Homo sapiens: one gene and its partner. The protein of the gene in region 2 purifies or fractionates together with the protein of the main gene of each other region. This does not show direct contact. Each region holds a gene or a part of one and is shown on either strand. Other genes may lie near its edges.

Region 1 (3,500 bases), about 25 Mb from region 2:
CCCATCTGGAGTTTTATTTTCAACCCATATCTCCTCCGTAGGAGGTAGTGCTGGAGTACCAGGAGCAGTCACAGGAGGCATTCCTGGTGGAAACATCATACCCGGAGGAGGAGGCATGGAACTCATGGGAGGAGGCATGAAAGGTGGTCTCTGTTAATTCACAAAAACAGTAATGGTCACTTTAATTACTTTTCCTCCAAATTATTACTGAATTCTATTCAAAAGTAAAACACTGTAAGAGAAACTAGTTTTATAGTCTATTCAAACACATTCACCTGTCATAGAAGCAAAATGTCTGCAACAAAAATTACCAAACAAACTAGAAAGAAACACATCAAACTACTAATAGTGGTCAACTCTGGGTTATAACACTGTCAGTGAATTCTGCTTTCTCCTTTCTACATGATCTGATTTTCACACACAGGGCGCTGGATTACTTTTTTTAAAAAATTGATTTTTATATCCTGTTTTAATACCAGGCACATCACTGTCTCCACAGCTTCTTGAAGAATCCTTCAAGAAAAAGTTTTCACTGTGCATAAAAATGAGTTTCAAAATTAAAAATTTGACATTATGACATTATAAAAACATTTTGAGCAGGGATTTAAAAGATTTCCTCTATAAGCTGTAAGTAACATTAAAATTCAATTATCAAAAGCAGCTTAATCTGGATAATGGAACTCAAACTATGCTAATAGTGTGAAGTTGTACTTTATTTTCCTAAAAATGTCTTTCCCATACTCCAATCTTTGCTGGATTCAGTTGAGTATCTTTCAAGCGTCAGCACACCAGATCTAGGTTATATAAAATATCTATCCCAAATACGTTTCATGAGCCCTTGGCTGAAAATCACTTGGACTTAATATAAAGCCAAACAATTATCCAAGACCAAGAAAGGCATGACAACATTAGAAAGTATCTTAGCACAACATTTGATATATTTCAATGAGAGGGTTACATTAGTCCATTACATTTTATAATACTCCAAAGTAGGTTTAACTCTTAAAGTCACAAATTAGAACAAATTCACGTTAAAGATTATACCAGAATAAGTTAAAAAAACTATTTCTTATTCTAACCTTGAAGCAAATATAAAACCATTTAACAGTGTGTTTAAAGGAAGGAGAGGCTATTCGTTATTAGGAAGGCCATAAAATTATTAAGCAAAGTATTAAAACCTGTCTCTTCCATAACCACAACCCTACCTAAACAGAATTAACATCACTTAAATGGCACATCATTGTCTTCTTCCATTTTTAGTATAATTCATTCTTCACTGTCTAAGCTAATGGAAGGCAGATGATACCACTATATTTATTTGGTTTCAGAATTATACAGACTAAACTAAGAAAACATAGATACATACTCAAAAAGAATACAATCCCAAAATGAGACATTTGAGAGTTCATACCTTCATGACCTCACCTCAGACAGTAAGTCTGGATACACTGGAGAAGGATCTATGCCCCAGGTTAAAATACCATAAATGTTTTTATTTAAAGAAATCCCATAATAAATCGTTTTCAAAAAGAGTAAGATAACCCTATTTTCCCCCCAGGGGAGAAAAAAAATTCAACTATGTGCTTATAAAATGTGTTTGCTGTCACTTTCCAGATTCTATCCTAGGCACCATTTCCAGGAGGAAGACTTACTCAGGAACATATACACATATATTTTTAGACTTGCTGGCAACATATATCATTGAAAATAAATTTTCTCCACTCAAAAATATCTTAAAATTTCAAACTTCATTTCCCATAAAGAAGATGCATTACTAAAGCCAATTCACAGAGCTAAAGGTAGGTAAAAACTATTGAATCCTGGTTTTATACACATACTTCTCTATCACCATCTAAAGTCCTATTCTGAATTTCCATAGTAATTACTGCTACCACTAATTCAGAAGAAACATATTAATATATGGATCTTCTCTTTAGCTCCCATTTTCCTATAAACTGAAACTATTTAAGAATGTAAGTTTTTAACTCAAAACCCATATATAATATTGATAATGATGCCAACAAAGAAATGGCAACCTCTACATTCTTTACCTGGAGGTGTGGAGGGCCCATAGGTGGAGGTATCCCTCCTGGAGGAGGCATTGGCGGCATATTAGGATCAAAAGGAGGACGTCCAAAGGGCGGCCGTGGTGGTGGAGGAGGGCCTCGCATCATACCAAAAGGTGGAGGAGGTCGCATCAGAGGTGGTGGGCCTCGCATCACTGCATTTGGTGGGGGAGCCGGACCTCGGAACCTCAAGGCCTGCTGTTGGGCCATCCTGCATGGGAAAGCAAGGAATAAATTTTTCTTTCTTAAAATTACAAAAATGTAGCTACTGATCTCTAATTACATCCATCAAATTTAAAAGGTTCTTAAGTCTAAGTGGAGTTGGAAAGTCATCATTTTGCAACCGTCATGATAAAAACTACATCAATGGGCCGGGTGCAGTGGCTCACATCTGTAATCCCAGCACTTTGGGAGGTCAAGGCAGGTGGATCACCTGAGGTCAGGAGTTTGAGACCAACCTCGACAACATGGTGAAACCCCATCTCTACTAAAAATACAAAAATCAGCCAGGTATGGAGGCGCACGCCTGTAAGTCCTGCTATTGGGGAGGCTGAGGCAGGAGAATCACTTGAACCCGCAAGGCAGAGGTTGCAATGAGCCAAGATCAAGCCACTGCACTCCTGCCTGGGCAACAGAGCAAGGCTCCATCTCAAAAAACAAACAAACAAACAAACAACCAAAAAAACAAAAAAAAAAACTTACATCAATGGATGATCTAGTTTTGGATGAATGATCAATGGATGCCGAGTCTAGGCAAAAATTTAGACAAGAGGGTTATCTGATGGTCTTAAAGTATTTACCCACATGCTGCTTAAAGTTGCAAGAAAGGATGAAAAAAAAAACACTCTACATAATCTACGTAATAAGGAAATTAGGCAATACCTTGACCCCGTGATCAAAACTAATTATCATCTAAGAAGGACAGATAGATAATGTGTGACTGAGAGAGACACGACATCACCTATTCCGACCAAAAATGTATAACCTCAATCTAACAACGAGGAAAGTATCAGACAAACTCAGAATAAGGAAGGAATGTTCTTTCTTTTCTTTTCTTTTTTTTTTTTGAGACCAAGTCTCACTCTCTTGCCAGGCTGGAGTACAGTGGCATGATCTCGGCTCACTGCAACCTCCGCCTCCCGGGTTCAGGCGATTCTTCTCCCAAGTAGCTGGGACTACAGGCATGCGCCACCATGCCCGGCTAATTTTTTTTTTTTTTTTTTTTTTTTGTATTTGAGTAGAGATGGGGTTTCACCATGTTGGCAATGGTCTTGATCTCCTGACCGCATGATCTGCCCTCCTCGGCCTCCCAAAGTGCTAGGATTATAGGCATGAGCCACAGCGCCTGGCCGGAAGGAATGTTCTATTAAAAGGGGGATGTGTATTCTTCAGATATGTCAATGTTATCCATAAAAGACAAAGAAATGTTGTGGA
Region 2 (3,500 bases):
TGATTAAAACATAACTGACTATGTATCAAAATATGAAGAAATACATTTTTCCCACTTGCAAGTAATAATTATAATCTTTCAGTTTGGGTTCACAATATCTTTTCCCCCTTTGTAGGATGATAGTCTCAATAATCACATACATTAAAAGCCCATAATCAAGTTTTTCCTATGGAAACAATGTCCTCTATGATCCTTACCAAGAGTAGTGAGTCCCTCTGAGATAGATGTGAGAACATACATGAGTACAGGAGGCTCTAAGTTGATGATGAAGCTCATATGGTCCTGAGTGAGACATTCCAGGAGTGGATAATAAGACTGGCTCAGTTTCCGGTATTGCTACAACACAGAGATATACTAAATGTCAAGCCACAGAGAAGAAAAATACATGTTACAGTCCAGTGAAAATTGTCATTTATAATACTGGAAATTGTAAACTTATTTAAACACAAGGTCAATAAATATATAGAGCAAATGACATAATGAGTCCCAATCCAGCATTTAAAGGGGTTCTGATAGGAATCGCTTGATCTCTTTACCTTATATGGTTAGCACTTAAAAGTAAAATCCCTGCAGTACGATATTTAGAAGACTGTGTGAATTATTTTTCTGGATTGGAATACTGTAACACTGAACAGTGCTTAACAGTCGCTAGGAAACCTTTTTTTTGTTGGTTTTTTAAACACAAAGACATTTGCTGTTATAATGGGATTTGGCACCATAGTCTGTTGTATTAATATAATGCTAATCCATCTAACTAAATAATAATTTGGTAAAGGGCTTAATATTTACCATACACTACAGGCAAAAGATAAGTGCATGAGAAAGATACCTGAAAAATCTCAAATGCAATCCAAACCAGTATCAAAGAAACACACTTGTAAGATAAATTAGAGAAGCTGGGCATGGAGGTTCATGCTGGTAATTCCAGCTACTTGGGAGGCTGAGGCAGGAGAATTGCTTAAGCCCAGGAGTCTAAGAACAGGCTGGGCAACACAGCAAGACCCTGCCTCTAAAAAAAAAAAAAGAAAAAAAGAGAAACCAGAGGAGCATTTCTTAAAGTGATGTTAAGACCAACTCAATAGGAATCACTTGGGGTGCTTGTTAAAAACGCAGTTTCCTGATCCCCACTTCAGACTCGCTAAATGACAAGCTCTAGTGTAGGCTCTGAAATGTATATTTTTAACACACGTTAAGAGAGTCTTATGCACCTTCAAGTTGGAGAATTACTGAGTTGAAGGTTTGTTTGACTATTAGAATAAAAAAATTAGAGAAAAATTCTTGGAACCATACCAGTTGTCTTGGTGGACTTTAACTGTAGTGAAGTAACTCTTTGATGAGGTGATTTTAACATATGGCTGATTTGACTCAAGTTTCTACTTTGTAATTTCTGTCTAACAGACATATCCTTCAATGATCATTCCATTCTACTACAAGGAAGTCCTCTCTTTGGCTTGAGATGCAGCCATTCCAAGATTAGTTTATAAAGGTGGAAGATGATGCACTAGTCCACTAGGAGATCAAGAAGCATTTCTTACACAGGTTGACTAACAAAGGCCTTCCAGATTTTACTTGTAACCTTGAGTGGGAGCAGGTGGGAAAGCCTGAACTAAGCCTAAGCATGATTTGGCTATGTTACTCAAGTAATTACTGCTACTACATTGGGCACATATTGGTTTCTATATAATCAGGCAGAGATGCTAAAAAAAAAAAAAAGCCACTATAGTTTTCCAAATTCTGTAAGTTAGATCAAGTATGCTGTCTTAAAACATAAAATGTTCTAGGCTAACTCCCTGGGCTTCATTATAACACTTCCAGGCCTGTGGTGGTGTTACTTCACATTTCATACAAACACTCCCATGATGCATGATTGCTTACTAGCAAGTCACTGTGGGACACTGACAGCAGCATTTTGACAAAAGCCTGGAGTACATTGTCAAAATGGTTGTCCCCATACAACTTGAAGACGCCAAAGCTGACATAATTTCCACACAAGGCAGACTTGAGAGCTGAATAGCAGATGGAGATGCCCTTGAGTTTCATTGGATAAATCTGATCTTTTGAGAGGCTCCCAAGGGACAGGATCTGATTACCTGTTTCAGGATAAAAGCAGAAAGTGACATAAGTAGATGTCATTCAAAGTAGTTATGGGACACACTATTTAACATTTTTACTTTACTGCTAATGTTCACTTCCTCCCAGCATATTTTTAAGAATTTTTTTTTATTCATTGTAATAAAAAATATAAATACATATGGCAGTTTACCTGGAAGTACAAAAGGCCCAAGGAAAAATCAATATCCTTATATTGGAAAAGCTCTATATTTTTATCTGCATGGTGATTACACAGATGTATACATAGATATGTAAAATTTCATTAAGTTGTACTCTTAAGACTATTCATTTTACTCTATGTGTTATCCTGTCAGTAAAAAATTTTAAAAAGTAGGATAAAACTAAGTCAAGAGAAAAAGATAACCTGACTGAGATGTAAATTACCCTAAATTCTCGGCAAATTTTTGACCTTTTATATGAATTTGATCTTGAGTTACTTCATTTTTAGGAGCCTCACAGGTTTGGTATACGAATTCAATGAAATAACACACACAGAAGTTCTTGGTGCAGTGTACAGTAAATATTACTTCCTTTTTCTTCTTAGATCCTTCTTCAGAAGATCTCAAGAGATGATTGTTTTAAAAATTGTACTTAAATTCTGCGTTGACCATCAGAAGACAAAGAAATGTTTGTATGATCACCCTAAAATCTTCTGTAGTACAGTTAGCATTTACAATCAATGATTTCTGTTTCTGAAATGTGTGCTAGTAAGTATGTTACTAGGCAATACTTGATAATGTTTTAAAAAAATATAAAGTAATATATGTTTCTTACCTCTGCTTTTTCCTGGTCAAATGAGTATTGCTTCTAAAATTGAAACTAAATTCAATTTACAAAATTTAGAAGTATAATATAGTGGCTTACACTGTGTCAACTTAGCTAACAAGAATTAAGTTTCTTAGAATCCACTTCCCTTTATGGTTGTGGGCTAGAATTGGCCAAAAGAGACATTTGTGTGAGATTTGGATGCTGGGAGTGGAGTAGCTGCCATGACTTTTTAAAGGTTGCTGTGGTTAGAGGTGGTAAGAGTAACAGGTAGAAATGCTGCTCGGTTTCACTTTGTCCTTGTTCTTCCTTGTCCTGTTTGTGTCTAGAACTACCAGCCCTGCTGACCAATATCTCCAAGCCCACCACCAAACAGGTGGTAGCACACTTACAGAAGCAATAGCTATGCAGACGCAACAGCCTTCTACTGACTTCTATACCATAACACCAGCTACCTTCTCACCCCTAATCCTTTCATAGTTCCACTCTAGCACCTAAATGTGCCTGGTTTCTAGATTTCCCTGCAAATTCCAACTTGTCTATGCCATTATTTCAGGAGGGCTGATCAGTGATATTTTTCCCCTGAACCTCCAACTCCCCACTTTGGCCCTATTTCCCCATCT

The links.
Region 1: the proteins of RANBP17 (region 2) and TCERG1 purify together in Homo sapiens (affinity purification with mass spectrometry; one large-scale study listed by BioGRID and IntAct). This does not show direct contact.

The regions. Positions count from the first base shown.
Region 1 is NC_000005.10:146,453,833-146,457,332, reverse strand, and holds part of TCERG1 (transcription elongation regulator 1), read right to left. Parts: intron 2,816-3,500; exon of another isoform or gene 2,771-2,815; coding exon of another isoform or gene 2,769-2,770; intron 2,278-2,768; coding exon 2,052-2,277; intron 151-2,051; coding exon 1-150. UniProt on the Homo sapiens protein: Transcription factor that binds RNA polymerase II and inhibits the elongation of transcripts from target promoters. Regulates transcription elongation in a TATA box-dependent manner.
Region 2 is NC_000005.10:171,239,518-171,243,017, reverse strand, and holds part of RANBP17 (ran-binding protein 17), read right to left. Parts: intron 2,091-3,500; coding exon 1,876-2,090; intron 337-1,875; coding exon 198-336; intron 1-197. UniProt on the Homo sapiens protein: May function as a nuclear transport receptor.